4 separate regions of the Homo sapiens genome follow, and regions 2, 3 and 4 are each linked to region 1. The links come from fine-mapping of genetic effects on gene expression. A gene starts in region 1. Each other region holds a variant in brackets. All regions are shown on one strand. Distances are between the middles of the regions.

What was found. PIP is the estimated chance that this variant, and not a neighbour inherited with it, causes the effect.
Region 2: its variant is fine-mapped to the expression of GRIN2A in neural progenitor cells (Aygun 2021, PIP 0.95).
Region 3: its variant is fine-mapped to the expression of GRIN2A in substantia nigra (GTEx, PIP above 0.99). The same link has a PIP of 0.9 or more in amygdala.
Region 4: its variant is fine-mapped to the expression of GRIN2A in unexposed skin (GTEx, PIP 0.98).

The regions. Positions count from the first base shown.
Region 1 is chr16:10,179,091-10,187,230 of GRCh38, reverse strand. GRIN2A (glutamate ionotropic receptor NMDA type subunit 2A) reads left to right here and starts at 4,803. Exons shown (of 13, transcript NM_001134407.3): 1 at 4,803-5,354; 2 at 6,802-7,233. The coding sequence starts at 6,820. RefSeq lists silencers at 5,536-5,595, 5,606-5,715.
Region 2 is chr16:9,318,935-9,327,074 of GRCh38, reverse strand. No RefSeq gene overlaps it. Among named protein-coding and RNA genes, the nearest start is that of LINC02177, 33 kb to the left of the region's middle. The variant T/G (reference allele first, on the strand shown) is at 3,644.
Region 3 is chr16:9,967,831-9,975,830 of GRCh38, reverse strand. All of the region lies in intron 2 of GRIN2A (glutamate ionotropic receptor NMDA type subunit 2A), which reads left to right. Among named protein-coding and RNA genes, the nearest start is that of GRIN2A, 210 kb to the left of the region's middle. The variant C/T (reference allele first, on the strand shown) is at 4,908.
Region 4 is chr16:10,252,057-10,260,196 of GRCh38, reverse strand. LOC105371078 (a long non-coding RNA gene) reads left to right here and starts at 7,554. Exons shown (of 3, transcript XR_001752077.1): 1 at 7,554-7,883. RefSeq lists an enhancer at 879-928. The variant G/A (reference allele first, on the strand shown) is at 4,161.

The DNA of each region.
Region 1 (8,140 bases):
TTAGCCAGGGTTCTCTAGAGGGACAGAACTAATAGGATAGATGTATATATAAAGGGGAGTTTATTTTATTTTATTTTATTTTTTATTTTTTTTGAGACGGAGTTTTGCTCTTGTTGCCTAGGCTGGAGTGCAGTGGAACAATCTCAGCTCACTGCAACCTCCGCCTCCCAGGTTCAAGTGATTTTCCTGCCACAGCCTCCCAAGTAGCTGGGATTACAGGTGTACACCACCATGCCTGGCTAATTTTTTGTATTTAATAGAGCTGGGGTTTCACCATGTTGGTCAGGCTGGTCTTGAACTCCTGACCTCAGGTGATCCACCCGTCTCGGCCTCCCAAAGTGCTGGGATTACAGGCATGAGCCACCGTGCCCAGACTAAAGGGGAGTTTATTAAGGAATATTGACTCACATGATCACAAGGTGAGGTTTCACAATAGACTTCAAGCTGAGAAGCAAGGAAGCCAGTCCGAGTCCCAAAGCTGAAGAACTTGGAGTCCGATGTTCCAGGGCAGGAAGCATTCAGCCCCAGGGGAAAGATGGAGGCCAGAAAACTGAACCAGTCTAGTCTTTCCATATTCTGCCTGCTTTTATTCTGGCTGTGCTGGCAGCTGATTAGACGGTGCCTACCCAGATTGAGGGTGGGTCTGCCAGTCCACTGACTCGAATGTTAATCTCCTTTGGCAACGCCCTCACAGACACACCCAGGAACAATACTTTGCATCCTTCAATCCAATCAAGTTGATACTCAGTATTAACCATCACAGTTGATATAGCTGCTATGAAGAAGTTTTTCTTATCATCTGAAACTCTTTGAGCAGCAAAATTCTGCTTAGCATCCTAAGCTGCATTGAGAATTAAGCTTGGCAGCATAGATGGAGTAAGGCTGTCATGATCTTATACACGCTGTCACAGTCTCTGCATGTATGGTGAAGTTCCAGGTGCCTGACACACGATGTGCTCCACCCTGGTGACATGTCCACCCCAGTGCAACTCCAGCCTCCTGTGCCTATGTTTAGAGGCACAGTGTCCCTTCCAATGAAGGGCTGCCTTCTTTCTCTATTCAAAAGAGGCCGTATCAGTTTGATTTATCTTTCTATAAGTCTGATCATGAATAACTTAAAACCCTGAATACCAGTATTTTTCAAGAAAGACAAATCCAATTTCAGGGTCAGCATCAATTTATGAGAATAGCAAGTGCAGAGGCATCATCAGAATCCCCTATGGATCTAAAATAACTGTCCGTGCTTGGCCCCACACCTGGAGATCCTGATGGAGTAGATCTAGAGTGGGCATAGGCATCTGTGTTTTATTTTCTTTATTTATTTTTTTTGGGACAAAGTCTCACTCTGTCACTCAGGCTGGAGTGCAGCAGTGTGAACACTTGGGTTGTCATCATGTTGCCCCGGCTGGTTTCAAATTCCTGGGCTCTCATCATGTTGCCCAGGCTGGTTTCAAACTCCTGGGCTCAAGTGATCCTCCTGCCTTAGCCTCCCAAAGTTCTGGGAGTACAGGCGTGAGCCACTGCACCCAGCCACATCTGTATTTTAAAAAGTCCCATAGATAAAACCCACATATCCATTGCAGGAGACTGGATACACAAAGTGTGGCTTATCCATGCAATAGAGAGCTAGCTGCTCAACAATAAAAAATAAAAAAGCTGTTGATACATGCAACAACACAGAGGAATCTTCTAGACATCAGGGTAAGTGAAAAAAGCCAGTCACCAAAGAATACATAGTGTAAAATTCCACTTATATGAAGTTCAGAAAAGGGCAAAACTAATACATGGTATTAGAAATCAAAATTGTAGTTTACACTGAATGGGGGGAGTGGGATTGACAACAAAGGGACACAAGAAAACTTCCTGGTGGTGATGAAAATACTCTGTACCTCATTTTACGTGACGGTCTATGTGGATACACACAATCTCAAAAGTAACAAACTGGCTGGGTGCAGTGGCTCACACCTGTAATTTCAGCCTTTGGGAGGCCAAGGCCAGAGGATTTCGTAAAGACAAGAGTTTGAGACCAGCATGGACAACATAGCAACACCCAATGGCTACAAAAAATAAAAAATTTGCCAGATGTGGTGGCATGTGCTAACCACCACAAGTCCTAACTACTTGGGAAGCTGAGGCAGAAGGATCACTTGAGCCTAGGAGTTCAAGTTAATAGTGAGCTACGACCACACCACTGCACTCCAGCCAGGGCAAGAGTGAGACCCTGTCAAAAAAACAAAACAAAACAAAACAAACAAACAAAAAAATAAAAAAACACCAAAAAACCTTCACAAATGAAACCCTTGAGAGATATGCATTTTATTGTCTATAATTTATAACTCATTTAAATAAAATGGCCTAACTTCCCCTTTAGACCCCAAGCCAGAGTCTTGCATGGGTGCCAAGGAGTGGCCTAATCAGTTCAGCCCAGCCATAGACTCAAGAAAGGAAACATTTTCCTGTTCCCTGCCTTATATTATACAATCCCCCATTTTAATTTACTTTCCAGCATTTCCCTCACGCTTTCTCTGTCTTTTGGATTAAAAAAAAAACAAAAACAAAAACCCAGGAAACCCAGCATAGAACAACCAGCTCAATAATGAATCCATTTGTCTCCACACACTGTGCCCCTCTCCTGTCTCCATTTCAGCAGCCACATCCACATTCTTGGAAGAAGTTCCCCTGCTTCCAGGCTACTTCAAGGTGCATGATGTTGATTGAGCATCTACTATGTGCCAGACCTTGTTGACCCCTTTATTAAGGCTACTTCCTTTTCTTTTCAAAATAATCCTGAGAAGTAGATGTTTTTACTGCCCCCCATTTCCAGATTAGTGATCAATAAAGGGAAGTAATATAATGTCCAAAAGTGATATTTTAGTTTGATCCAGGTGCCATAGCAAAACATCATCAACAGCAGAAGTTTATTTCTCTCACTTCTTGAGGCTGGGAGGTCCAAGATGAAGCAGCAGCAGACTCAGTATTTGGGGAGGGCCTAGTTCCTGTTCATAGGCCGATGCCTTCTTGATTAAGTCTCACTTGGTGGAAGGACCTAGCTGACTCTCTGGCATCTCTTTTATAAGACCACAAATCCCATTTTACTCTCATGAAGCCATGAAGTCACCTCCTAAAGTCCCCACCTCCTAATACCATCACCTTGGGAGTTAGGATTTTATCCTATGAATTTGGGGGTGGGAACACACACATTTAGACCGCAGCAGGTGACATTAGGTTAAGTGGAGGAGGCAGGGTTGGAACAGTCATTGCAAAACCTCTTAGAATTTAAGACCCCTTTCCTTCCAAGGCCTGAAAGGCAGACAGGCGTTGGAGATACAGGTGAATATAAAAGGGGCAGAGCTCCTCCCTTGACCATGTATTTCATGCCCAGTCGCTAGAATTCAAGTCAACCAAGCCCTCACACACCCGGGCCGTCCCATGTTCTCTGGCTCACCTCTTCTGGTAGCTTAGAAGTGGCAGCCTCAGGGAGGCTTCTGTTTGGTAGAACTTAGAAGGAAGCATGTGGGAAATGCAGATGTCTTTGCTTTTAGGATTCTGGCTCCCTGAGATCAGAGGAGTGGGTTCCCGTACGGGGGTGGCGAGGCACAGGGAGAAGCATTGGAGCAGACTCTGTGTGTGTGTGTGTGTGTGTGTGTGTGTGTGTGTGTGTGTCGGCGCGCCTGTGCGTGGAGGGGGATAACTGTACCCAGCGCGAGGCACTGGGGGAGGAGGAAGCGGTAGCAGAGATCTGAATAATTGATTCTTCAGCCGCACCAGACGCCCGGGAGCGGGCGGAGAGCGTGGTTCCAACACCACGGACAGCAGCGCGCGCCGCCGCAGGCGCCCCCGTCGCCAGCCAGCCACCTATCCTGGCCTTATTTGCCGCCGTGCGCTCTCGGAACGGGTGGCCGCGCTCCGCGTCGCCGCCGAGGGACTGCGGGGTCTGTCTCGACCCACCTAGGAGAGAGGCTGCGGGCAGGAGACGCTTTCGCCCGCCGGAGCTCGAAGCCTCTTGGGCTTGAGCGGGGGCTACTGCGTCTCGCCGGCTGAGAACAAGTCCCTAAGTTGGTGTGGAGGGCGCCGCTACCTTCCTTCTCCTCTTCCTCGGAGGCGACCGCAGCAGAAAGACGCCCCGGGAACCCGGCTTTGCCAGTGCTGTGAACCAGGGTGTCCAGGCGCTCACCGGACTCCCGCTGGGAAGTGGGGAGCCGAACGCCCGGCGCGGAGCTGGCCCAGCAGCGAAGGGCCCGGAGGGAGCTGCCTTTCCCCGCCCGCGCCTCTCTCGGCCGGGGACCGCGGGGATCCCCGGCCACACGCGAGCGCGCTCCCACACTCACACACACACTCGCCCTCAAACACACCAGCCCGGAGCTGGGTTGCGGAGAGGGTGCTCCGGCGCGCTCAGAGGACCGGGCAGTTGCCGTCCGGAGTGGGGCAGGAAGCGGAGCTAGGGATCTTGGAGGGGAGCTCCTAGGGCTTGGCCGGATCATGGGACCGGGTGAGCGCTGAGAATCGCGGCCGCAGCCATCAGCCCTGGAGATGACCAGGAGCGGCCACTGCTGAGAACTATGTGGAGAGAGGCTGCGGTGAGTGCTAGCGCGGGACGCCGGGCCTGGGAGGCCCCCTTGGGAAGGGGGGAGGTGGGAGGCCTGAAGAGGGAGGAAGCGGCAGGATCACAAGAGGGTCGCTGCGTGGGAAAGATCCACCTCCCTCGGGGAACCGGGACCGCGGGAGCCCGCGTCCTTCCCTCCCCCTCTCCTACTGCTGGCTCGTCACAAACTCAGCCAGCGCCCCCCCACCCTCGTTACCTCCTCTTTCTCTCCCTACCTCCCTCGCTCAGCAGCTCCCGGTCGCACAACTCCCAGCAGCCGGCGCTGGGGAGGTGGTAGGGGGTGCGGGTGGAGGTGCCCAGTTAGCTTCTCGTGGGTGGCCAACCTGGGGCTCCCATTCTCCTGTGCACCCTGGAGTGGAGCTCCCGCTATCAGCCACAGGGGCTGAGGATCCGCACTGGGGGCGTCGTGGGCATCGGGCTTCAGCTTCCCCCCTCTTGTCTAGCCCCCCTGGGCGCATAGGGGGGCTTGTGAGCACTGCAGACTGCAGCCTTCCCCTCAACCCTCCCTCCCCTCGTTGGTGGGCTGACCCTGCCTCTCCTTCTCTCCTCCGCCCCGTTAGAGCCCTGCTGCAGAGCCTCCGGCTGGGATAGCCGCCCCCCGTGGGGGCGATGCGGACAGCGCGGGACAGCCAGGGGAGCGCGCTGGGGCCGCAGCATGCGGGAACCCGCTAAACCCGGTGGCTGCTGAGGCGGCCGAGATGCTCGTGCGCGCAGCGCGCCCCACTGCATCCTCGACCTTCTCGGGCTACAGGTACGTCCCAGAGGGAGATCAGGGCTCCTTGGGCCGGGGAGGAGGGAGACTCGACCGGAGGGAGAGCGGGAGAGGGATCAGGCTAGAGAGGGAGAGGGAAAGCGGGAGGGAGCCCAGCGGCGAAGTGCAGGAGGGGCACCAGGGGGCGCTGCGGCTCCGCGCTCCGCGGCGCTTACCCAGGAACGTCGAGGCCTCTTGGAGTTCGCCTCAACTTCCCCCGGCTCCAGCAGCGTCCGTCCCGAGAGGCGCGCGTCAGGGCACGCGTGCACGACCGTGCTGGTATTTGCAGGTACGCAGGGCTGTGCACCTGCCGCAGTTCATGCGTGTGCACCACCTGAGGACATGTGAGGACTCCGGCTGGCCGTGGGCACCGCTACAGCAGTCTGAGGAAGTGCGCAGAAAAGCGCGCGTGCCTATGAGCGTGTGCGGCCCACTGCCCACGTGCACCTAGGACTTGGCAACAGCGCCCGCAGTAGAAAGGCTAGGGAGGGGCTGTACAGTCCACGTCCGTCTGGGAGCTTCTTGGGAGCCTACCTTTCCCCCTACGCACGTTCTTTGCCAGCTCCTACGCGCTGGCCCGCGGGGGGACGCGCCTACTCTCCAGAATTCAGCATTGCACACGGCGCGCGTGAGAGAGGGTGTGTGTGTGTGAACATGTGTGTGTGCGTGTGTGTGTGCACGTGTGTGTGCACGCGCGCGTGTAGGGGTGAAGGACTCTCCACGGCCCCTTGGCTCGAGGTGGGGCGAGCCCCAAGTTCCCCAGGCACAGCGGAGCCTGGGCCCACCAGGCAGCGTCCTCACTCCCAAGCACTTGGGGTGTACTCTGACTGAGAGGAGCCGGGTCTGTAGTTGGGGCTGGGCGTAGAGCAAAGTGTGTGGTGCACACGACGGGCTCGTAGGGGGCGGGGTCAGCCAACTAGCTGAGCTCTCAAGCTGGGACGCGGGGTCTGGGTGCCGCCTCCGCACGCCCTGCGGGGTCTGTAGTTCGCTCCGCGCCAGCAGGGGGCGGGGTTGATAACTTGGTCCTCTCTATCCCAGGTGGGAGGGGTTGGATGGAGGGTTTATTCTGTGCACCTAGGAGCTTGGTGGGGTACAGAACACGCGCGGCGCTTAGGGTCTGTGGCCCGCGGCGAACTTGGGGAATGCGGTGGGGGATATGGACAGAGATGGGGATGGGGAAGTGCCTGGAGACAGGGGATGAGGAAGCTGGATGCGAGAAGGGGCTGGGGGATGGAGAATTAGCTCGAATTGGAGTTGTGGATAGAGTTAGAGATGGATCGAGGGATGTGGATGGCGTCGGGGACTCGGAATGGAGTCCGTGATCCCAGCAGCCTATCCTGCTGCTGAGTTCCATGCCTGGCTCCTAGAGCAGGAAGCCAAGTTGGTAATCCCTTTCTTCTGGTCGCCTTGCTCACCGCGGCCCTGCCTCTCACTCTTCACCTTGCAGGGACCGTCAGTGGCGACTATGGGCAGAGTGGGCTATTGGACCCTGCTGGTGCTGCCGGCCCTTCTGGTCTGGCGCGGTCCGGCGCCGAGCGCGGCGGCGGAGAAGGGTCCCCCCGCGCTAAATATTGCGGTGATGCTGGGTCACAGCCACGACGTGACAGAGCGCGAACTTCGAACACTGTGGGGCCCCGAGCAGGCGGCGGGGCTGCCCCTGGACGTGAACGTGGTAGCTCTGCTGATGAACCGCACCGACCCCAAGAGCCTCATCACGCACGTGTGCGACCTCATGTCCGGGGCACGCATCCACGGCCTCGTGTTTGGGGACGACACGGACCAGGAGGCCGTAGCCCAGATGCTGGATTTTATCTCCTCCCACACCTTCGTCCCCATCTTGGGCATTCATGGGGGCGCATCTATGATCATGGCTGACAAGGTAAGGCCGGAAACTGATGCCCTGCCAGGACCTGGGAAGCCACCAGCTGCATGGCAGCTGCTGCAGGTCTTCGGACGCCCCTAGAATCTGTCTTGATGTGAAGTGGGGGTGGGGGTGGGAGGGTCGTGGCCACTGGCCCTGGTGAGAACCAGGTCTTGCCTCTCCAACCCAGAAATGAATGGAAATGCCTTTTGCCTTGTTTCTGAAAATGGTGTACACAGGAGCACTTTGGTGTGTGTGTGCCAGGAAGCGCTCAGAAAACTGAGAAGTAGGCTGTGGGGTGGTGGTGGTGGCGGTGGTGGCATGTTTGGAGATTTACGAGTACCATGGGGCACAGAGGTGGGCCCAGGAGCACTGGAGACATATGCTTCCTATTTTCACAATGCCAGTTTTACCTGATTGTTTTGTGGGAAAATGTCCATTTTTTCCTCTTATGGTAAGTGACTAAAACTATTTCTAAAAATTATTAAATGTGGGTAGGTTCTGGAAGAAAATGCAAAGTTTTTAGGTAAAGCACAAAAGGGCAGAAAAAATGTCATGCTTCCTCTGACTCTGCAGTTAGAGGAACAGAGGTGGGGAGTTTGAGAAGCCCTGGGCCAGAGGAGCGGAGGAGAGACCCGTTCCTCAAGGGGAGTGGGTGGGAGTGGAAAGAATTAACTCCAAACCCAGAGCATGGAGGGCCTGGCATTTTCCTTACGTGTTCTTTGTCTGGGGCTCCAAGGCCCTCAGATGAAGGAGTTGGCTCCTGAACAAAGATGGGTCTTGGTACTAAAGTTGGAGAGTCTCAAAATGCAAGAAAGAGTGTACAAAAATCAGTTGGCTCTGAATGAGAGGGAGGGTCTTTTTTGTGGACAGCCTGGGAGCTTTGGTTTGGAGAAGAAGGGAGAGAGATTTGAAGATTTGAAGG
Region 2 (8,140 bases), 860 kb after region 1:
TATTACAGTCCTTTGTTATGCCCCGACCCCAAGCACCATACATACATGGACTGTCTCTAGGGGGACCCAGATCATTTCTGCATTTTCCCAGCTTGTCCTTGCATCTATTCATTCTCATCCTATTCCACTGTCAAGGTATCTCCAGTCCCTAGACTTAGCATTTTTCCATTTCCTTCTAGTCCCATCAAATCCTAACATGAGGATGCTCCAAGTATCCTATCAGAGCCCTTGCAACCCCAGCCATGGTTGACTTCTCCTAACCCCTTTGGCAAGAAAGACTTTGACAAAATTAGCCCATTCTAAAAACATAATGATGACAATTAAACTTCTCATTTTTTCAAAAAACCTTCACATTCAGGATTTCAGGCAATGATATGGCTTGGCTGTGTCCCCACCCAAATCTTATCTTGAACTGTAGCTCCCATAACTCCCATGTGTTGTAGGGAGGAACCCAGTAGAAGATAACTGGATCATGGGGGTAGTTTCCCCCATACTGTTCTCATGGTAGTGAATAAGTGTCATGAGATCTTATGTTTTGATAAGGGGTTTCCCCCTTTACTTGGCTCTCTCATTCTCTCTTGGCTGCTGCCATGTAAGATGTGCCTTTCACCTTCCACCATGATGTGAGGTCTCCCTAGCCATGTGGAACTGTGAGTCCATTAAACCTCTTTTTCTTTATAAATAATGATCCAAATAATCCAATAATCCAAATGATCATGGAGGGCAAGTATTTCAAGACCATGGGGTTTGACATCAAACAGAAATAGATCCAAACCTTGACTCTACCATGTACAAACTTTGTCAGATTCCTTCACCCATCTGGTCCTCATTTTCCTCATCTGGAGACCTTACCAGCACCTACCTCAGAGGGCTGCTATGAAGATTAAAGAAGGTAATGCACACAGAGGCTCATCACAGTGTCAGGCAATCAGAACTCATTGGCTGCCGTTGTTTTTATTTAACAGATGCTGTCTTTGATTTGGTTTCCTAGAAGACCCTAAAATAAAGCCTTGAATGTAAACAATGTATTTACCAGAAGATACCAGGAAGCACCAGAAGGAGAGTAAGAAAGTGAGACAGGGAAGGGAAGGAAACCAATGAGCAGGTCACCACTGTGGGCGCCCAGGGGCTTCATCCCAAGAGAGAATCTTGGAGGTGGTGTAGGACATGCATCCAGTTATCCCACCCAATGCGCCCAGTTATCCCACCCAATGCACCCAGTTATCCCACCCACAGGGTGTTTACTCATCAACTCCCATTTGCTGTTGGTTGAAGACTGCTCCTGGGGGTGTTAACTCCCTGGCACTTCTAGCTTGCTTGTGCGTGGGACAGACATGTTCCTAGAGCCAGCAGAAGCCCTCAGGCATAGTCAGAGGCTCCTTGCAGACAGAAGCGGTTGGCAGGAACAGTGAGTTTGAGAGGAGGGGGGATATGAGCATGGCACCAAAGCCTCTGCTGCAGATTCAGACAGTAGAGTCCAGGAAGGTTAGGTGCCAAGCCCACGCTCACACAAACACGGAGTGCCTGTGTAGAAAGAAAGCAAAACAACTGTGCTGGGTTCAAATTGCAGCCAATTGCAATTTAAATTGCAGCCAGGCATGGTGGCTCCCATGTGTAATCCCAGCACCTTGGGAGGCCAAGGCGGGCAGATCACTTGAGGCCAGGAGTTCGAGAACAGCCTGGCTAACATGGTGAAAAATACAAAAAATACATGGCCAAAAATACAAAAAAATTAGCCAAGTGTGGTAGTACATACCTGTAATCCCAGCTACTCGGGAGGCTGAGGCATGAGAATTGCTTGAACCCAGGAGGCAGAGGTTGCAGTGAGCTGAGATTGCAACACTGCACTCCAGCCTGGCAACAGAGTAAGACTCTGTCTCAAAATAGAAAAATTGCAAATTGCAGTTGCACCACTTGTTCATCTGTAACCTGATAGGGCTGATCCCTACCTGGGAAAGTTTTGAAGGAAGTAAGTTGTATAATGTAGGTAAACCACTTCACACAAATTAGATGCTGAAGAAATGTTGGATGCAACAGAACTGCTTAGTGACCTTTCTCTTCCCTCCTGACCCCAGCGTTCTCCCACTAGGACTGTAGCCTCCCTGACAAGCAGGGAAACTTATTTTCTCCATCCATCTAGTCATCAAATGGCTACTGAGTGCCACCTGGACACCTGGCACTACATAGGAGATGGAGATGTACAGGTGAGTAGACATGACCTTGGCCCTTCTCCCAGACACAGAGAAGCAATCAAATAAATGCAATGTGGAGGATGGAGAAGCAGTTTCTACAGCAGTGCTTCTCATCCTTTAATGTGCATGGGAATGGCCCAGGGAATTCTTACTAAAATACAGTGTCTGACTTGGGGTCTAGGGTGGGACTTAAGAGTCTTCATTTCTAGCAAGTTCCCAACTGATTCTGATGCTGCGCAGTTTTGAGCACAAGAGCTCTACAGAATTTGTTGGGGGAAAAAAAAGGAAGAATTCATTCATTCTTGGGGAAAGATACCTGCCTACTCATTGGGTTGCCTAGGTGTTGGTCCCCCCACTTTTCAAAATGAGGAGACCATTATGAAGTCCATGAACTGGAAAGGATGATTCAAGATGATCAGATCCAGATGTATGGGAAGGTGACTCTCTTACCATCCCCAAAAGAAAGTCATTCAGGGTCTACATAAAGAGGGAGACATCACCTCATCCTCTTTTGACAGTGTCTGAAGACTTGAATGGCCAAGAAATTTTTCCATGGTCCCAGCTCGTACATGGGAGTGAGTTGAGAAAACTTTATAAAACCAACACACCTCCTATAAGCCTGGAGTGGTCTTTGCTTGCACCTGTGGGACTGGAATCAGAAAGCAAGCTCAGTAAAACACATGCATGCTGCAGAGGTTGCAGCCACTGGATATCTAAGCCTCATAATGAGCAGAGTTCACTATCCAGCTTTCTGATGCATCCCTCCTTTTCCTCCTGAGAAACTGTTCAGTCCCTTCACTTTTCTTGAACATGTCCATGTAATTAAGCCTAAATCGGCTATCTGGAAGTGCACGCAAATGGGGCTAGATTTTATCTGAAGTTCCCTAAACCCAGATATAATAACAGTTACAGGGTATTCACTAAGGAAGATGCAGTGAACTATCAAACGTGCTACAGAGACCTCAACTGTCAATCAATATGTCCAATAAACAATGTGTGCATTGTTATTAAACATTTGGCATATAAAATTATTCTATAATATGTGAGAGATTAGTAGATGGGATAAAGTATCCTGTATCCTTAGAATAAATTCCCCTCTCTTACTTGCCCAAAGTAACTTGAGCAGGTTTCTATTACTTGCAATGAAAAGACTCCTGATTAAAAGATAGGTTTTCAGATGGCCCAGGCCAGCCAGTATTCCCAGCTCAATGAATATTTGTTTTTGAATGAATGAGCAATACTGTAACCCAAAAGAAGGTAATTATGTAGAATTTCTGGCATCAGCAAGACAGGAAGGAGACCTTCTCTCACCCCTAATACGTTACTCTGCTGATAGCTGCCCAGCCTCCGATGAAAAGAGGATCACAAATTCAACACAGGCAAAGGGCGGAGAGAATCTGATATTTAGAAAGAACTCTGAATACAAAGATGACCGCCTGGGTTCTGGCCCC[T/G]GATCCACTACTGAATAGCCAAATGCCCTTTAATAAGTTACTCAATCCTCAGTTGTTCTTATTCTAAAGTGAGTCTGTAGCAAATATGTGCTGGCTGCCTTCCCACATCCATCCCTTCCTCTTTCTCCCCCTAATACAACCAATATGCTTTAAGGGAAATACATGCCCTGGCCTGCAGCAAGAGTGAGCTCTGACTGGCTTAAAGCAATCAGCATCTTTTAGTCCCCCAGCCCAGTCTCCAGTTCAGACTTGGGCATGTGATCGACATAGGTACCACCAAGGTGAATCTCAGGACCCTTGCTTGAATGTGAAAGCAAAAGTGCTCATTCTGGCCCTGGACATGAGTGAGAAGGCAAGAAGCAGTTTGTTGTAACCATACTGCATTCATGACAGGAGTTAGTTTGAGAATGAATCTGACTTGCAAAATAAAGAGGAGTCACTGAAAAAAAATTACAAGGGAAATTAAGCCATAGGAATGATCACTCTGCACCTCAAGCTCGTTCTTCCTCTAAACATTTCAGTTCTATGAGTCAGGCAGTTCCCTTTGTTTTTATGACCATTGCAGTTAAGTTTGCTGTTATTAAAAATTAATACATCTGGCCTGGCACAGTGGCTCACACCTGTAACCCCAACACTTTGGAAGGCCGAGGCAGGCGGATCACCTGAGGTCAGGAGTTTGAGACCAGCCTGGCCAACATGGCGAAACCCTGTCTCTACTAAAACTACAAAACTTAGCTGGGCATGGTGGCAGGCACCTGTAATCCCAGCTACTTGGGAGGCTGAGGTGGGAGAATCGCTTGAACCTGGACGGCAGTGATTGCAGTGAGCTGAGATTGCGCCACTGCACTCCAGCCTGGGCAACAGAGCAAGACTCCACCTCAAAAAAAAAAAAAAAAATGAATGCATCCATGGATACACAGTTTCTACAAGTGTCCTGTATATATTGTAGCACAGTTCATAATGCCTGGACTGAAATAATATATTTTGTATGAAAGCACTTTTGAATCTTACAATTCTGTAGCAAGGTAAGGAATTAGTGGTTGCCCTGAAAACATATGGAAGTCAAAGAGTTAATCTTTCTCCTGAGACCGGAAAGACAATTTAGTTGTCTTGAAAAAGGCAGGATGAAGGATTCATTGTTATAACAATTGGCGTTGAGAAGCAAAAGCCAATTATTCAAAGCTCCCTGCCTATTTATTTGGTCAGTTTAAGAGAACCCATCAGACACAGCCAGATTTGCCTTAACTGAATTGGTTCAGAGAGAGCTTTGAAGCATCAAGTTCACCGTGGGGGAAATTCCATCTCAGAACATGAGTGGAGGGAGCAGAGGAAGAGTCAGCTCTCCCGGGCAAGGCCCATCCTCTGTGCTGCTCAGGGAAGCTCTAGTCCAAGGATGGTGCAGAAAACTCACTGAGAGATGGGGCTTACAGGTAACTGCTGGCCTTCCTGTTAGTGGCAATGACTCTGGTTCAAACCCACCCTCTGTCACTAGAGCTGCACAGCCTTGAACTTCTCTGAGCCTCGGTTTCTTCATCTGCAGAATGGGGATGATAGCACTTGTTCTACCTAGCCATAACCATAGGATGTGTTGCTGGAAATAGGTGTGATTTCACTCTTCTATGGGAGAGAAAAGAGGGAGGCAAGACCTAAAAGGAGCATTCACAGGGGGAAGTGAAGCATGCAGGTGCATGGATTTTACAGTACACCTAGGACCAAAACCTCTGCTACTGCCTCCTATCTTATCATTTAGGCATTTGACAGTCATTCAACCAACATCCCATTGAGAGCCTACACTGTGCCAGACACTGGATACTGATGGAAAACAAGACAGACAAGGTCCTGGCCTTATAGATCTTACACTGAGGTCAGCTGCAGTGGGGAGTGGGGGGTGGGTGCAAAAAATCAATATATAAACAAATCTAAAAGATAATTTGATGTAATGAAATTGTCCTTGCTCAAATCTCATCTCTTAGAGAGACATATCCAGCCTCCCTATTTAATGCACAACCTTGCCCCACCTGTGCTCACAACTCTCTAACCTTACCTTCCCTATTTTCCTCTCCATAACTCATTCCTTTTAATGTATCAGATAATTTATTCTTATGTGTATCATATATTTTCTGTCTCTCCTGTGAGAATGTAAGCTCCATGAAGGCAAGAATCATTGTTTTGTTCACTGCTGTAGCCAAAGTGCCTAGAACAATTACTGTGCTGGCACATAGTAGATGCTCAGTAAATATTTGTTGAATTGACTTATTTCATGGAAAGTGCTACAGAAAAATTAAGCAGGGTAATGGAATAGAGAGTGTTATGGTCCCCCACGCCAAAAAATATTCGTATGTTGAAAACTTAATCCCTGATGTGATAATATTAGGAGGTGAGACCCTTGGGAGGTGATTAGATCATAAGGGTGAAGCCCTCATGAGTGCAATTCGTGCACATGTAAAAGAGACCATAGAGATCTCCCTCCTCGCTTCTGTGGTGTGAGGGCAGAGCAAAAAGGCACTCCCTATGAACCAGGACGTGGACCCTCACCAGACAACATATCTGTTGGTTCCTTGATCTTGGACTTCCCAGCCTCCAGAACTGTGAGAAATAAATTTCTGTTGTTTATAAACCACCTGGTCTATGGTACTTTGCTGTAACAGCCCTAATGGACTAAGCCAGAGGGTAATGGAGGAGAAGTAGGATTGAAGGCCTAGTTTAGATAGAAATCTATGTAGGCTTCTCTAAAAAGATGTCTTGTGCATGACAGCTGCATGGTGAGAAGCAGCAGCAGTTATGAAGATTTGGGAAGGCATCCCAGGCAGCAAGGATGGCATGTACAAAGGCCTTGAGGCAGGAAGGATCTTGGTGTGTTTGAAGAATAGAAAATTCGGGAACTCTCGGGTGGATCTCCTGAGGTCAGGAGTTCAATATCAGCCTGGCCAACATGGTGAAACCCCGTCTCTACTAAAATACAAAAATTAGCCAGGTGTAGTGGTGCATGCCTGTGGTCCCAGCTACTTGAGAAGCAGAAGAATCTCTTGAACCTGGGAGTTGGAGGTTGCAGTAAGCCAAGATGGTGCCACTGCACTCCAGCCTGGGCAATAGAGCAAAAAGAAAAAAGAAAAAAAAAAAAAGAAAATTCAGGAACTCTGAAGAAGAAGGGTGAGAGGGAAAGTGGTGGGAGACAGGACTGGAAAGGTGTGGAATTTTGAATCCTGATAGTTGAATACCCTGCAAATCTTTGCTTAACTGCAAAGTGTTATAAGCCATAAACATGCTTATCACCATGTCTGGATCATAAAGAGAAAGCTCTTTGATAAATCCTTGTTAGATCCAATGAACTCTCCTTTTTCGTCATGGAGAATGGCTGAAAAGTTAGAAGATTTTTGACCTTTCAAAGAAATGACACAAGTGGATTTCAACAATCGCCATCTGTATAAAACTAAAGGGTCATCAGGGAGAAAGGGAACAGAATTGTTCCATGTGAAAACTAAATCCAATGGGTAAAGACCACAAGGAAAGAGATTTCAGCCCAATTTGAGACAAACTTCCTTATAATCAAACTGCACAAAGGTGAAATTGGGAGTAGTGAGTTTCCCACAACTGGAAGTGTTCAAGCCAAGGTTGAGCTTCCATGTGGTAGGAATAGGTAGAAGGAGCCCAAGTGTTGAGTAGACTGTAGACCTCCCAGGCATGCAAGTTGATGATTTTATGATAATCTTTTAATCATGCCATCTCAACACATTAGTGTTTGTTCTCTGCCTTTGTTTACAAACCCCATCAGTAAAATTCTCACAGAACACATCTACTAATAAGGTAGCAAAGACCGGAATGCATAATAAGGGATGAGTGTACCCATCCTTTGTTCAACAATACAATATTTTTCTTGAATAATGCATGAGCTGCTTTTCATTTCGGAAATGAGAGAGTCTATAATCCCACTGTGCGTCAAGCGAATATTTTTAAACATTTATAAGCAGGAGCCAAAGACAGTGGTAAGAAGCTTAGTAACAACAGAAACATGCATGGCTTGGGATCAGAATAGGCAGGGTGCTTCCATGAGAACCACAGAGGGATGGAGGAAACTGAAGAGTCACCTTTCAGTCCCCTGCTCCTAAGGTCATGGAGGGCAAAACAAACATGGGAATCTGGGTCAAGACACTCACTCCAGGGGGCTTTCCTCAAGCCAGGCTGATTTCCAGTTTCCACAGAAAACTAGACTAGGGAAGGCATATCAGCACTGAAGTTCAGTGTTTTCTTCTCAAATTAAGTTCTCTACCCAACATTCATCACTGCCCTAGCTATTTATGTGGTGGGTGAGTTCAAGGGGACAGTGACATAAACACTAGTGCCTACTTGATGTCCTCTTATTTGCTAGTATGAGAAACATTTATCACTCAGCTAAAAGACTACATTTCCCAGACTCCCTTGCAAGGCATGACCACATGACCACATTCTGACCCATGAGATGTAAAGAGATAACGGCAGAAAGGGAGGAAGAGAGACTTA
Region 3 (8,000 bases), 210 kb after region 1:
TATCTTTTTCCATTAATTTACTTTGAATCTGTCTGCGTCTTTACATTGAAAGTACATCTCTTGTAGGTAGAGAATAGTTGGTCTTGTTTTTGTTTGATCCATTCTGAGAGTCTTCAACTTTTAGTCCACAGTCATTTAATGCAGTTATCGATGTGTTTGGGTTTGGCATGTTTATTGTTGTTTCTGTATTTCCCCTCTGTTTTTCATGTCTCTCTTCTCCCTTTCCTGCTCTGTTAGTTTTCTGTTGCTGCTGTGACGAATGATTCACAAACCGAAGAGTTGTGGAACTGAGGTTCCCATTTATTTGCAGTCTGTGGATGGCAGGCTGGTCTTTGCTCCTAGAGACTTCTTTCTCATGCTTTCCATGTAGCTCCTCCAGCAATGGTGAATGAAGATCTTCTGACACTTTGAGTCTCTCTGACTTCTTCTCTGCTACTTCTCTGACTCCAGCTGGAGAAAGTTCTCTGTTTTTCAGGGGACTTGTGAGTAGGATCCATGGAATAAACCAGGATAATCTCTCCGTTTTTAGGTCCATAATCACTTTTTTCATGTAACATAACACATTCAGAGGTTCCAGGGTTAAAGGTGTGGACATCTTTGGGGGATCCATTTTGCCCATTATATCTGCCTTTTTATGGATTTTTAGAGTATTTACACACTTTGTTTTAACTTATTTATTGGCTTTTAATCTATACCTCTCATCTCAATAGATGCAGAATTATCTTAATAGATGCAGAAAATTATTTAAAAATTTTAATACTTTAATTCCTATAAAATTTAAACTATTTCCTTCTATAACCAGTTTTCTGAGTGTTTTCATGATAGAAGTATATCCAATAAAGGTCAAATACAACAAGCCCACAACAAACACCATACTCAGTGGTGAAAATTGAGAGCTTTTCCTCTATGATCAGGAACAAGACAAAGATGTTCAATCTCACCACTTCTATTCAGCATAGTACTGGAAGTCCTAGCCAGAGCAATTAGGCCAGAAAAAGAAATAAAAGGCTTCCAAATTGGAAAGGAAGAAGTGAAATTATCTCTATTTGCATTTTTAAAGTGATTGCTCTAGGGATCACATGAAACATCTTTAGCTTTTCACAGGCTACTTAGGGTTGGTATTGCATTGCTTCACATACAATGTAGAAACTTTTCAGTATAGGGCCTACTCATTCCCCTTGTAGCAGGACGAGCCGCAGACAAAACTCCTCAGACACGGAGTTAAAGAAGGAAGAGGTTTATTCGGCCGCGAGCATCGGCAAGACTCCTGTCTCAAGAGTTGAGCTCCCCGACTGAGCAATTCCTGTCCCTTTTAAGGGCTCACAACTCTAAGGGGGTCCACGTGAGAGGGTCGTGATCGATTGAGCAAGCAGGGAGTATGTGACTGGGGGCTGCATGCACCGGTAATCAGAACGAAACAGAACAGGACAGGGATTTTCACAGTGCTTTTCCATACAATGTCTGGAATCTATAGATAACATAACCGGTTAGGTCAGGGGTCGATCTTTAACTACCAGGCTTAGGTCAGGCAGGCCCAGGCCTGATTTCGGGTCTGGTTCCTTGGTTTTGGGTCTGGTTCCTAGGCACCAGGCTAACTGCCTTTAGTTTCGCTTCTCTTTCTTTTTCTGAGTATAAAACCGTATAAAACAATGTGAGAGGGCCTGTCTCTCTTCTTCCACCCTCACCATCCTGTATGCTATAGTGTTATATGCATTGCATCTGTACATTAATACCCTAAGAGGCAATGTAAGGATTTGTGCTTTAAATAGTCACATGCATATGTATTTTTTTAATTAAAAGAAGAGTCTTTTATGCTTATCCAGATATTTATGCTTCTAATGCTCTTCATTAATTCCTGAAGGAATTAGAGTTTTCTTCTGGTATTATTTTCTCTTGTATCAGCTTGAATAACTTCCTTTAGCATTTCTTGAAGGGCTGGTCTGCTGGAAATGAATTCTCTTAGTTTTATTTTATCTGAAAAGTCTTTAATTCTTTTTCATTCTTGAAGGGCATTTTCACTAATTATAGAATTTGTTTTTTTTCCCCCCAGCACTTATAAAGACATTATTCCACTGTCTTCTGGACTCTGTAGTTTCTAATCTTAAGTCTGTGAAAAATTTGAATCATTGTTCTCTATATATAATGTGCTATTTTTCTCTTGCTAATTTTGAGATTTTCTTTCTTTTGATTTTCATCAGTTTGACTGTGATGTGCCTAGCATGGTTTTCTCCACATTTGTCCTATTTGGGGTTCTTTGAGTTTCTTGAATTTGTAAGTTTATGTCTTTCACCAAATTTCTTTTTGGCCATTATTCTTCAATATTTTTTCCCCTTCTCCATTCTCTTTCTTGTAGGAACTTTTGAAACCACCTTTGCAAAAATTATAACTGAGAAATCATGGCAGTGAAAGAGATCTGACTTAAGTGACTTCATCTTGCTTCTAACCTCCAAGTTGTCCTTGTTTTTCCTGGGCGGAGGTGTAGGCCAAAATAACCTTCAGAGAAACTTAGTTTATAGTTTAACTTTGAAACAAAGAGATATTAGCCCTTTCCCAAAACAAACACCCTTCCTGCCTGGGGATTGCCTAAAGCCAGAGGATGAGAAATTATGGTTTAGGAGTCATGCAGTTGAAGGCTGCAAGACTCTAAACCTCCCCAAATTGCTCCTGGGGATAACATCACTATTGTAAAACCTAAGATCGGTACTTGAGATATTTTGCAGACCCTTCATCTGATGGATCAGTTAGCACCACCCAGATTGATAAACTGGCTCATCTGGCCTTGTGGCCCCCACCCAGGAACGGACTCACAGCAGGAGGACAATTTTAACGCCCTGTGATTTCATCTCCAGACAGCCAATCAGAACTCCTGAATCACTGGCCCTCTACCCACCAAATTATCCTTAAAAACTCTGATCCCTGTATTCTTGGGGAAACTGATTTTGAGTCATAATAAAACTCTGGTCTCCTGCACAGCTGGCTGTGTGTGAATTACTCTTTCTCTATTGCAATTCCCCTGTCTTGATAAATCGGCTCTGTCTAGACAGTGGCAAGGTGATCTTGGGTGGTTACACTTTAATCACATGTATGTTAGATCTCACTCTGTCAATTTATAAAAGCCCCTCTGCTTAAGTCATTTCTATTGATCTATCTTCAAGCTCTCTGACTCCTGCCTATGTCATCTTCATTCTCATGTTAGTTCTATCCAGTAAATTCTTTATTTCAGATATTTTGTTTTTCATTTCTAAATGTTCTTTTTTTTATTTTCCTCTTCTGAGGCTTCCTACCTTTTTCTTTGTGATGAGCATATTTTCCTTTACCTCATTAAGTGTATTGTTAGAATAGCTGCTTTAACACCTGGATCATATTGGGATTGGCCTCTGTTGATTGTCTTCTTTCCTTGAGAATGGGTCAGATTTCCCTATTTCTTATATGTAAAGTAAGTCTTTTTTGCTTGAGAATGGGTCAGATTTCCCTACTTCTTATATGTAAAGTAATTTTGAATTGTACTAGCACTTTGTGAATGCTATATTGTGGGTTATATTTCCTTAAAGAGTATTCATATTTGTGTCTTAGCAGGTAACTAACCTGGTTATACTTACATTTCCATATCTGTCTCTCAGGTGGAGGCTTAGTTCTCAGTCCTGTTGGGTTTAAATGCAAACTACTTTGAGCCTTGTCTACTCACCCTTTGTTCAAGGACTGGCCAGAGGCTTGGGCAGAGTTTACATATACATGCCAAGAATTCCCTTCTCTAAGTCTCCTCTTTCTGGGGTTTTTATATTCTGCTGGCCGTGGACTTCCAGGTCTCTAACTTCCACCTCCTCAGGCCAGAAAGAGGTTGGCTCTTCCACTAGATGTTGAGCCACCCGGTGCCATTTTGGGACAGCAGCATGCTGTCAGACCTAGGTGGCAAAAATGTAGAACTCTATGATGAGCCCTTCTTCCATGTTTCAATGTCCCTGTGAAATCTACTGGCTATTTTTACTCTACAGAGCCTTCAGGTATATTTTTTTTTTCCTTCTAGCTTTAATTTTTTACCTGTTTGGGTGTGGGAGGGAATCTGTTAAGAGATTTCCTACCATACCAGAAGCAGAACTCTGGCTATCTTCTGCTGTTTTCTTAAACTTCTACACTGCTGGAACTATTTTTCAGATAAACTAGATCAGATAATTTTTATGGTAAAGTTAGACTGACATGTCATCATCTTCAGCCATCTCATTTTCTTACCCGACATTGGCAGTTTTACATTCTTATATATTCTTGCTACAAGATACAGGAGCTAGAAACAAGAATCATTTTATTGTCAGTCACAGTTCTGTGGGTTGACTGGGCTCTACTAGGTGGTTTTTCTGCTGCATGTAATAACAGCTGAGGCTACAGTTCCCTGAGAGCACAGTTGGGCTGAAATGTATGAGATGGCTCATGACATGGCTAAGTGGATGGAGCTGGCTATTGGCTTGGGGGCGTAGCTCACTGCCTAATGTAACCTTTTTATGTGGCTTGGATTTCACAAAGCATGGTGGTTGAGTTTTGAGTTGACATACCCAAGGGAAATTGTTATATCAGGGAAGAAGTGGAAGCTTCTGTTTTACTGAAAATTAGGCTTTTCTATTGGTCACATAGTCACTGTGCTGGTCAGATTCAAGAGGAGAATAAAGCAATCCACCTGTCAATGGGAAGAATAACAGAAAACAGTGTGGGCATCCTTAATTCACCCCACCTCATACTGTCTGCTCTTATTTGTCACCCATAGCCTTTGTTCATGCCTTGATCATCTCTTTATAGAATTCCTGAAATAGCCTTCTAGCCTCTCCCCTTCCCCCCAGTCTTGCCTCTCAAATGACTATCTACACAACTCTTTGTCTTCTCCAGAAAGGCTTCCTTTATTTCCCAGGGTGAATAAGCCT[C/T]TCATCTCTCCATTATTCCATAGCATTCTGTAATACTTTAACATTTACTACATTGTTCTGAAATCATAAAATCTATTTGTCTGTCTCACCAACCAGTCTGCGTTTCTCAGGGGAAGGAACTATATTTGATATATCCAATATTTCTCCTGTTGAGAGTTTACCAGCCTGTAATTTTCTTAAGGTAGGGGACTCTGCCTGCTTTATTTATTTTATCTTCAGTACCTAACTTTGTGTCTAGCTCATCAGAGATCCTTAATACATATTTCTTGAACCAAAATGATTTTTTTTAAATTCACAGTCAGTTAAGGCAGAGCAAGAACTCGATTCCAGATTTATTTCCCCTCTAATTTACTTCTTTCTAGGGCCCTCCAGCAGCCAAGTGAATCTAAACAATCCTCAAGGCCTCTTTTCCTTAGCAGATCTATCGTATCTTTATCTCCATATCTCAAAAGCACTTTCTTTCATATGTTTTAAAATATAAACTGAGCTTAATAAGATGAAAAGGTTTCAGGATTTTCCTGCATTGGTCTCTACTCCAGTCTCTCTAGTGGGCAATGCACCAAAACACTGCTCTATTTCCTAGCTTTAAACTTGAAGAAATAATCTCCAAGCTCCAGGGCTAAGAAAAGGATTGTACATTAAAGACTTGTTGCTTTGGACTATGAACCTTACAGGTCAATTTTTTTCTGGAATAGTGCTAATAAAGAGAAAACAAGTTAAATTATTCACCTGGAGGCCTAGCAGGTTGTATCCTGAAGGCTGAAGTCAAGTGCTTACTCAAACATTGAATTTGAGCTGCTTTTTTCTGTATTAGGGATCCCAATGCTTGGTGCAGAACAAGAACTCGAGATTTCTTTGACGTCAAGGTTGGCTCTACCTAGAGTGTGATTCTTGAACTGTAGTGTGTATAAGATTCACACGGAGAGTGTGTTAAAACACCAACCCCAGGCCCCACTTCAGAGAATTCTAATTCAGTAGGTCTAAGATGGCGTGCGGGAGTAGGCGTGCCTGTGAGTCTCCTGTGAGCTGCTGATGCAGCTAAGGCTTTAAGGCAGAGTTGTTCAGCAGTGGAATTCTTGACATTTTGGGCTAGATAATTATTTGTGAATAGGGAGCTTTCCTGTGCATTGTAGGATGTTTAGCAGCAACCCTGGTCTTTACCCACTGGGTGCCAGTCATACCCTGCCTCCTAGCTGTGACAGCTAAATGCATCTCCAGGCATAGCGAAATATCCCCTGGTGGAGCACAGTCATTGCATGTTGAGAACCACTGGTCTAGGGTATCTGGATGGCTGTGGATTGAGGTATCACTGAGTAAGTTTGGGTGGTGGATGACAAGGTCAGTTTTAGAGTCTGCTGAGCTTAACTGGCTTATGGGGCACCATGAACATCCAGTTCTTTAAATATCAAAGCCCAGTGGAATGATCTGGATTTGGAAGGCATTGGCATATATTTAAAACCATGAAGGATGGATAAAATGTCCAAGTAAATGATGTACCCAGTGAGGAACAATGGATGCAACACAGAGCCTTGGGGAACACTAACTCATTAAGTGGCGAGTGAAGAAAGTGTGCATCTAAGAAGGAATGATAGGGGGATATAAGAGAAGGACAAGGAGAAAAAGATGTTTCAGGCAGCAATGGAGGAGAGTGTGTCAAGGAGAAAAGGGAGGTGATGTCAGTAGAGGAAAGATTCGGTAACACCAAGTTCAAAAAAGGACCATGGGACGAGGAGATCACCTTGACCACAGAAACCTGTTTTGTGCAACAGGATGGCCATTGACTCCCTGTGTCTACTGAGCATTTGAAGTGTGGCTAGTGTGACCTGAAATGTGCTATATGTGTTAAATTCACTCTGAATTTCAGACTTGCTGTGAAAAAAAAGAATGTGAAATATCTCATTAATAATAATTTTTATATTGATTGCACATTAAAATGATAATATAGTGAGTTGAATAAGATACATTATTAATATTAATTTCAACTTTTTCTTTTTACTTTAATATATGTGGTTTGAGGGCAGGGCGCAGTGGCTCACACCTGTAATTACCAGCACTTTGGAAGGCTGAGGCGGGCGGATCACCTGAGGTTGGGAGTTTGAGACCAGCCTGACCAACATGGAGAAACCCCATCTCTACTAAAATTACAAAATTAGCTGGGTGTGGTGGTGCCCACCTATAATCCCAGCTACTTGGGAGACTGAAGCAGGAGACTCTCTTGAACCCGGGAGTCAGGGGTTGCAGTGAGCCGAGATCACGCCACCGCACTCCCGCCTGGGTAACAAGAGCAAAACTCTGTCAAAAAAATAAATACGACCAGGTATGGTGGCTCATGCCTGTAATTCCAGCACTTTGGGAGGCCGAGGTGGGTGGATCACCTGAGGTCAGGAGTTCGAGACCATCCTGGCCAACATGGTGAAACCCCAAATCTACTAAAAATACAAAATTAGCCAGGTGTGGTGGCGCATGCCTGTAATTCCAGCTACTTGGGAGGCTGAGGCAGGAGAATTGCTTGAACCCGGGAGGCGGAAGTTGCAGTGAGCCAAGATCGTACCATTGCACTCCAGCCTGGGTAATAAGAGCGAAACTCCATCTCTAAATACATACATACGTACATGTATACATACATACATACATACATACATACATACATACATACATACAAGTCAATAGAGGCAAAGAAATGATAGATGCAGGGGAGAGAAGAAGGAAGGAAGCAATACAAAGCCTAGAGAGATTGTCATTGAATGGATAGGGGGAGTGTCGGGGAGATTAACTTGTATCTATTTTCAACCTCTTTCAGCCTCCTCCTTTTTTCCTGCAAAATGGGAGTAAGAATCACGTTGCAATAATAACGCCTACCCACTGGGTTGTCTGGAGGTTTACGTGAGATAATAGATGGGGACTACCTTTGGAAATAATGAAACACTGTATGAATTCCAACCGCAGTCATAAGTGTCTTTCTTTCTGACATTTCACTGTCTTTGCCTCCTAATGCATTAATAATTCATACTGTTTTAAAATTTTTTTAATTTCTATTTCAATAGTTTTTGGGGTACAGGTGCTTTTGGTTACAGGGATAAGTTGTTTAGTGGT
Region 4 (8,140 bases), 73 kb before region 1:
CACTTGAGGTCAGGAGTTCAAGACCAGCCTGGCCAACATGGTGAAACCTTGTCTCTACTAAAAATACAAAAATTAGCCAGGCGTGTTGGCATATGCCTGTAATCCCAGCTACCGGGAAGGCTGAGGCAAGAGAATTGCTTGAACCTGGGAGGCAGGGGTTGCAGTGGGCCAAGATCGAGCCACTGCACTCCACCCTGGGCAACAGAGCAAGACTCTGATTTAAAAAAAAAATGTTTTAAATTAATGAAGCCCCCGTGAAACTCAGATCCCAGAAATGTGTCCTGTCATCGTCCTTGCCTTCTGAGTCACTCACTTTTGCTTTACCATTCTGGGAAAGGGCTACATTTTCCAAAGTATATTTGTATATTTTTAAAATTTTTTTATTTTTTATTTTTGTCTCTTTACTTTTTTTCTAAAGCACATCTGTAGGGCTCTAGTCCTAGGGATCTGTGTAGTGCAGTGGTCCATAGAGCTTGGAAAACACTGGGTGAAACTCAGCTAAGCTGACTTCTGTAATTAACAAGTTTACTCATGTAAATATTCAGTTAATTTATTCATTTATTGTAGGGTCCAGTCCTACGGGGCTTATTGGGTGTTCTCCCCGTGTGTGGAGACGAGAGATGATAAGAAATAAAGACACCAGACAAAGAAGTAAAGAGAAAAACAGCTGGGCCTGGGGGACCACTACCACCAAGACGCAGAGACCAGTAGTGGCTCCAAATGGCTGGGCGGGCTGATATTTATTCTATATAAGACAAGGGGCAGGGTAAGGAGGGTGAGTTGTCCGAGTGATTGATAAGGTCAAGCAAGTCACATGATCATGGGACAGGGGGCCCTTCCCTTTTAGGTAGCTGAAGCAGAGAGAGAAGGCAGCATACATCTGCATTTTCTTCTATGCACTTATCAGAAAGATCAAAGACTTTAAGACTTTCACTGTTTCTTCTACTGCTATCTTCTAAGAACTTCAAAGAGGAACCAGGAGTACAGGAGGAACATGAAAGTGGACAGGGAGCATGACCACTGAAGCACAGCACCACAGGGAGGGGTTTAGGCCTCCAGATGACTGTGGGCAGGCCTGGATAATATCCAACCTCCCACAAGAAGGTGGTGGAGCAGAGTGTTCCCTGAGTCCTCCAAGTAAAGCGAGACTCCCTTTCATGGTCTGCTAAGTCACGGGTGCTTTCCCAGGCACTGGCATTACCGCTTGACCAAGGAGCCCTCAAGCGGCCCTTATGCAGGCGTGACAGAGGGCTCACCTCTTGCCTTCTTGGTCACTTCTCACAATGTCTCTTCAGCACCTGACCCTATCCCCGCTGGTTATTCCTTTGTTATATCAGTAATTAAACAAACAGTAATATTAAAGGCTAATGATTAATAATGGTTATACTAATGATTGATAATGTCCATGATCATCTCTATATCTAATTTCTATTATAACTATTCTAATTGTAACTATTTTCTTCATTATACTGAAACAGTTTGTGCCTTCAGTCTCTTGCCTCGGCACCTGGGTAATCCTCTGCCCACAATTTATCACGTTCTTATTGAGTGTTCCTCAGCATTATGCTAGGAAGGGGGATACTGTAGTGAGTTAGACTTCACTCCTCATTTCCCAGAGCTTCAAATCGAGTAATGATGACTGCAGGCCTTCTTGGAGTCTTAATTAACTGAGTATACCTAATTTGCTCAAAAAGGAATTGGGTGTCCTGCATTTTCTGGCCTGAAAACCTTTTTAAATAAAACTACTTTTTGAGTTCATTATTCCTTGGAACACATCTTCGGGGAATTCTTGAGTTAGGCTGTAGTTGCTAACACTGAGGTTACCATAACCATTACTATCCCTTGTGTCCTCAGAGGCCTGGTGTTCATTGAGTGTTTACCTTGTGGCCTTCGCATTTGTCATTGTATTTATTATTTATTTTTATATTTTGAGATGGAATCTTGCTCTGTCACCCAGGCTGGACTGTAGTAGCACGATTTCGGCTCACTGCAACATCCATCTCCTGGGTTCAAGCAATTCTTGTGCCTCAGCCTCCTGAGTAGCTAGGATTACAGGGACCCGCCACCATGCCCAGCTAATTTTTAAATTTTTAGTAGAGACAGGGTTTCAACACGTTGGCCAGGCTGGTCTCAAACTCCTGACCTCAGGTGATCCTCCCGCCTCAGCCTCTCAAAGTGCTGGGATTACAGGCATGAGCCACCGGGCCCAGCCTTGTATTTATTTTTATTATTTATTAATTTATTATTTCTATTTTTAGAGACAAGGGCTTCCTCTGTTGCCCGGGCTAGAGTGCAGTGAATGATCATAGCTCACTGTAACCTTGAGCTCCTGGCTCAGGCGATCCTCCCGCCTCAGTCTCCTGTGTAGCTGGGATTACAGGTGCACCACCACACTTGGCTAATTTTTTTTGTTGTTGTTTTCTGTAGAGATAGGGTCTTGCTATGTAGCTCAGGCTGGTCTAAAACTCCTGGGCTCACACAGTCCTCCTGCCTCAGCCTCCCAAAGGGCTGGGATTACAGGCGTGCATCACTGTGCCTGGCTGGATCACTGTGTTTCATTCTTACACTGATGCTGATGTCAATACTTTTTAAAAATCCCTTCTTGATACATGAGAAAATGGAGGCATAGAGGAGTGACGTAGTCTGCCCAAGATCACCTACTTGGGAAGTGGCAGAGCCCAGATTTGGATCCTGCTAGAGCCTGCAGAACCCCTTTAACCCAATGGTTTGCCACTGAGGGTGATTTTGCTCCCACGGGTCAGCTGGCAATGTCAGGAGACATTTTTGCTTGTCACTAGTTGAGATGGAGGTGCATTGGCATCTTGTGAGTAGAAACCAAGGACGCTGCTAAACACCCTAACATGCACAGAACAACCTCCCACAACACAGAATTACCAGCCCCAAATGTCAACAGTTCCAAGGTTGAGAAACCCTGCTTCAGCTAATCATTACACGGGTTTTAGTTCTATGAGTACCCCACAATTCATTAGGGAGACAGGACAAAGGCATACATGAATTCTAGTACAAGGAAGAGGCATGCTACAGAAAGGGTATAAATCATCCTTATGGCCCTCATTAGACCTTTTAATTTCCTTATAAGCCCTTTATTGCCACGGCTAATCCTTGCTAACCCTGCTCAGGGCTGTTTTCAGCAGAGGAAAGTTACCGAGCCCGTCCCCGCCCCCCGCCCCGCTTGACGTCTGGCGCCTCCTGGTGGCCTCAGGAGAAACTCCATCTTCCTCAGATACCCCACAAAGTCCTTCCCCTTCACCTGCCCCAACTCCAACCTCAGCCGCATCTCCCTGGGGCCCCTCGGCATCCTGATATAGTCACTGCCTCCCGTTGGTGGTCACCTACTGGCCGCAGCCCGGGACCTCTCACAGGAGCTGCCCTCTCTGCCTGTGAGTTTCTCCATTCTTTTTTTTTTTTCCCAGCTTTTGCACTGGGTACACTTTTTTTTTTTAAACTCTCCACTATGTTAATGAGGACCATTTTTCTTCTGCTTTGCAAACCCTGCTCACCCCTTCAGACGATGCTTAAAGACCCTCTCCTCCTGGACATCTTTCTGATTCTCCCAGAAAAAGTGAATGGCAGGGTCTTTTGTGCTTTCAGGCCTGGGATTTATGGTTAGGTTATAACTTACTAATTTATGTCTCTTTGTTCGTCCATCTGTGTGTCTGTCCCTCCACCTGTGGCTTCTAAGCCTGACTACAAAATGTCCTGGAGGGATTGCTAAAAACAAAGAAAGAAACAAGCAAGCAAACGATCTCCATCACTACAGGCATTTGCGTATATTTTTACATTCCCAGGGGGTTCTGAAGTACCCTAACATCTGAAAACAGCTCTGTATTGTTGCTCTTCCTTGTTCAGATCTGGCTGAAATGTCACCTCCTAAAAGAAGTGTTCCCTGACCTTTTGTAGTATTAATGACAAGGTTGGAAGAGGTGGCTCGAGGATTTATCACTGGAGGCTTTGAATGCCAGGTTAGGCAAGACAACGGGACATGGCTCTGTGGGCTTCTTAGGGTTTTTACCAGAGGGAGGGAGGTGATTCCTGGTGAGTGTTGGCAGTGTTAGTCCAGCAGGTTGGTGCAAGATGGGTGCAGGAGAGGTGAGGGCTAGATGTGGGGAGTTCCTACTAAGAGTTCTTGTAGCAACTTG[G/A]GAATGAGGAAACCGGGGCTTGGGCTGGCTTGAAGGCTGTGAGCATGGAGCTTCGGGGAGAGGAGAGAAGGGGACAATGTCAACACGTCTTAGACAGGTCCAGGCACTGATTAGCTATGGGGATGGCTGTGATGAATGAGTCAGACATGGCACTCAGAGTTCTAGCCTTGGCACCAGAAGGCTGGTGCTACTGCCAGAGGTAGAAAAGGCAGGGGAGAGCTCCTCTCCTGAGGGTAGATGATGGATCAACACTGGGACCCACTGAGTTTGAGATCCTAAGAGGATCATCTAAGAGTGGACTGAGAGGAAGGTCAAAAGAGGGGAAACTAGAGAGGAATCCCTGGAAACACACGATGCCTCATTTCCTGAGTTCAAGAAATAGCTCTTCCGGCATCTCCTACGTGCAGGCCCCCACGCCAAGTGTGCGGGTGAAGTGATGGATTAAACGGGTGTGATTCTTGCCCTCATGGAACTTCCCCTGTAGTGAGGGAGAGAGAGGAAAGAAATGTACCAAATATTTTCCAAAATTAATAATGGCTGGGCGCAGTGGCTCACACCTGTAATCCCAGCACTTTGGAAGGCGGAGGTGGGAGGATTACTTGAGGCCAGGAGTTTGAGACCAGCCTGGGCAACATAGACCTCGCTAACAATAAAAAATATTGGCCGGGCGTGGTGGCTCATGCCTGTAATCCTAGCACTTTGGGAGGGTGAGGCAGGCGGATTGCCTGAGCTCAGGAGTTCAAGACCAACCTGGGCAACATGGTGAAACCCCACCTCTACTAAAATACAAAAAATTAGCCGGGCTTGGCGGCGTGCGCCTGTAGTCCCAGCTACTTGGGAGGCTGAGGCAGGAGAATTGCTTGAACCCGGGAGGCGGAGGTTGCAGTGAGCTGAGATTGCATTGCTGTACTCTAGCCTGGGTGACAGAGCGAGACTCCGTCTCAAAAAAAAAAAAAAAAAAAAAGCCAGGCATGGTGGTCTGTGTCTGCAGGCTAAGGTGGGAGGATTGCTTGAATCCAGGAGGCAGAGGTTGCAGTGAGCCGAGATTGTGCCACTGCACTCCAGCCTGGGTAAGCGAGACTCTGTGTCAAAAATAAATAAATAAAATAAAATGTTAGCCAGGTGTGGTGTCATGCACCTGTAGTCATGAGTCTCCTGAGGTGGGAAAATCCCTTGAGCCCAGGGGTTCGAGGCTGCAGTGAGCCATGATTGTGCCACTGCACTCGAGCCTGGGTGACATAGCGAGATCCTATTTCTTTTTTGAGACAGAGTCTCAGTCTGTCACCTAGGCTGCAGTGCAGTGGCACGATCTTGGCTCACTGCAACCTCTGCCTCCTGGGTTTGAGAGATTCTCCTGCCCTAGCCTTCCGAGTAGCTGGGATCACAGGCACCTGCCATCATGCCTGGCTAATTTTTGTATTTTTAGTACAGATGGGGTTTCACCATGTTGGCCAGTCTGGTCTCAAACTCCTGACTTCAAGTGATCCTCCTACTTTGACCTCCCAAAGTGCTGGGATTACAGGAGTGAGCTGGGATTACAGGAGTGAGCCACCACACCTGGCAAGACCCTGTCTTAAAACAATAATAATAATAATAATAATAATAATTGCTCTGAAAGAAACCAAGATAAAGAAAAAAAATGTATCTTAAGTTCCGTTCCCTAGAGGCAGTCTGAGATGGCAACTGTTGTGCCAGTGATTTTTTGAGGGGCTGCTCTCAGTGAAAGGAAAGTCAGAGAAGCCAGGTAGTTAATCCTTTAGAGAAGGTTTCAGGTATGAGCCCTAAGTAGCTGATACCTACAGCAGTTGGGGGTGGGTCCACTGGCCTGGTGACAAGGATCTGAGTGGGACATTGACAGTATCTCCTCCCTTGTGGTAAGGGAAGGCCTGAGGAGGTGGCATTGAAGCTGAGACCTGAAGGATGGGAAGGAGAGAAAACCTGAGGCACGTGGTTGATGGACAGAAGGCAGTGCTCTGCATTCCAAGTGGAGGGGGTGGCACCGCACTAGTCCTGATGTGGAAGCAAGCTTGATGTATTCGATATTAAATTTTAAATGAAATTATTTAGGTATTAGACATTACATTTTAAAGGAAATTATTTAATTTAGGTATTAGACATTAAATTTTAAATGAAATTATTTAATTTAGTACATTAAATAATTTACTCTTTATATTTTAATTATTTAAAATGAAATTTAATATTAAAGAAAGCCAGGGTGGCTGGGATTTCTGAACCAAGGGAAGCGTAACCCAACATGAGATCAGAGCATCGCCAGGGACTTGTAAACATCGTGCAGAGCCTGGATTTTATGCTAAGGGCAACGAGAAACCTTTGAAGAGGTTTTAGGCGAGCAGCTGCCGAGATCTAATTTATGTTTCAAGATCATTCTGGCTGCTGTGCAGAAAATAGAGTAGGGTGAGGCAGTCATGCAAACCACAGTGCTAAACACTTCACAGGCATTCACGCAAATCCCACGGTGATCCTCGTTTTCCAAGGGGTAACTGAGACCCAGCGAGGGTAAGCTATCTGCCCAAAGACACACAGCTAACAAGGCAGCAGAACTAGGATTAAAAAAAAAAAAAATTCATTTTTAGAGACAGGATCTCACTCTGTCACCCAGGCTGAAGTGCAGTGGTGGGACCATAGCTCACTGCAGCCTTGAATTCCTGGGCTCAAACCATCCTTCCACCTCAGCCTCCTGAGAAGCCAGGACTACAGGCGAGGCCACCATGCCGTGCTAATTTCATTTACATTTTTTCATAGACACAGGGGTCTCGCTATGTTCCCAGGCTCGTATCAAACTCCTGGGCTCAAGTGATCCTCCTGCCTCAGCCTCCCAAGTAGTTAGGACCACGGCTGTCACCATGCCCGGCTAATTTCATTTTAATGTTTTGTAGAGATGGGGTCTCGCAGAGATAGTTAGGGTTAGGGTTAGGTTAGGGTTAGGGTCTCGCAGCAAGACCCATCTCAACGAAAAATTTAAATGAAATTAGCAGGGCCAATTGGCCTCCTGGATTGCTTAAGCCCAGGATTTTTTGTATTTAAAAGAAATTTAATTTAATGAAATTTAAAGGCAAACAATTTAAAGGTTGGTGTCGAACTCTTGGGCTCAAGCAATCCTGCCTCAACTTCCTAAAGTGCTGAGATTATAGGCTGAGCCACTGCACCTGGCCAGGAGCTGGGAACGGATTGCAGGCCACCGAAGCTGCAGTCTGAGCCCCCACTGTAGGAGCTCACCGCCTCCTTCAGGGTCCGCCTGCTCCCCTTCAAGGCCAGCAACGTTCTGCACAGGGCAAGAGCTCCATAAATGCTCTTTGGGCGGAAAGGTGTGGGAGTGAGAGAATCTGGACAGGAAGGGCCCACAATGGAGTGGGGAAGGCACCGAGGGGAGCAGGCAGGGTCCGAGGAGGAGGGAGTTAGCGGAGGGAGTGCTGGTGGGGTGGTGGTCATGAAAATCAGACGTTCCCAAGCGACACACCCGGACCAGACCGTAGAGAAGATGCTGGACTTGGTGCGTGGGAATCATCAGCGACCCCGGCTAGGGCAGCTTCGGGCAGCGTAGGGAGGAAGCCAGATTGCAACGGATTAAGGAGTGAGGGGGTGGCGAGATTTGCTGTCCTGATTCAGCCGCCGCGGCGGCAGCCCGGGCTGGCTCTCCTCCCACAGGTGCGGGCTCCACATGCGACGGGAACACGTGTGCCCACTCGTGCCACAGGCATGCAGGTGGGTGGAGGGGGCGGCTGGGGAGGACTGAGGCCCGGGAGTGCGGACAGCCGGGGTGCACAGCCTGAAACGGAGAGCAGAGGGCTGTGGGCTGCCGCGGGACCACGCGCACAAGACCCCACGCGTGGGCTCCGCCTGGGGGGAGTGAAACAGAGCGGAAGGGGTTTGCTTGGGTGCTGGGATGCTTCTCTGTGGAGGTGGCAGAGAGAAGGAGGGAGTGAAATGAGAGAGAAAATGGTGAGCTGGGCAAAGAGGCC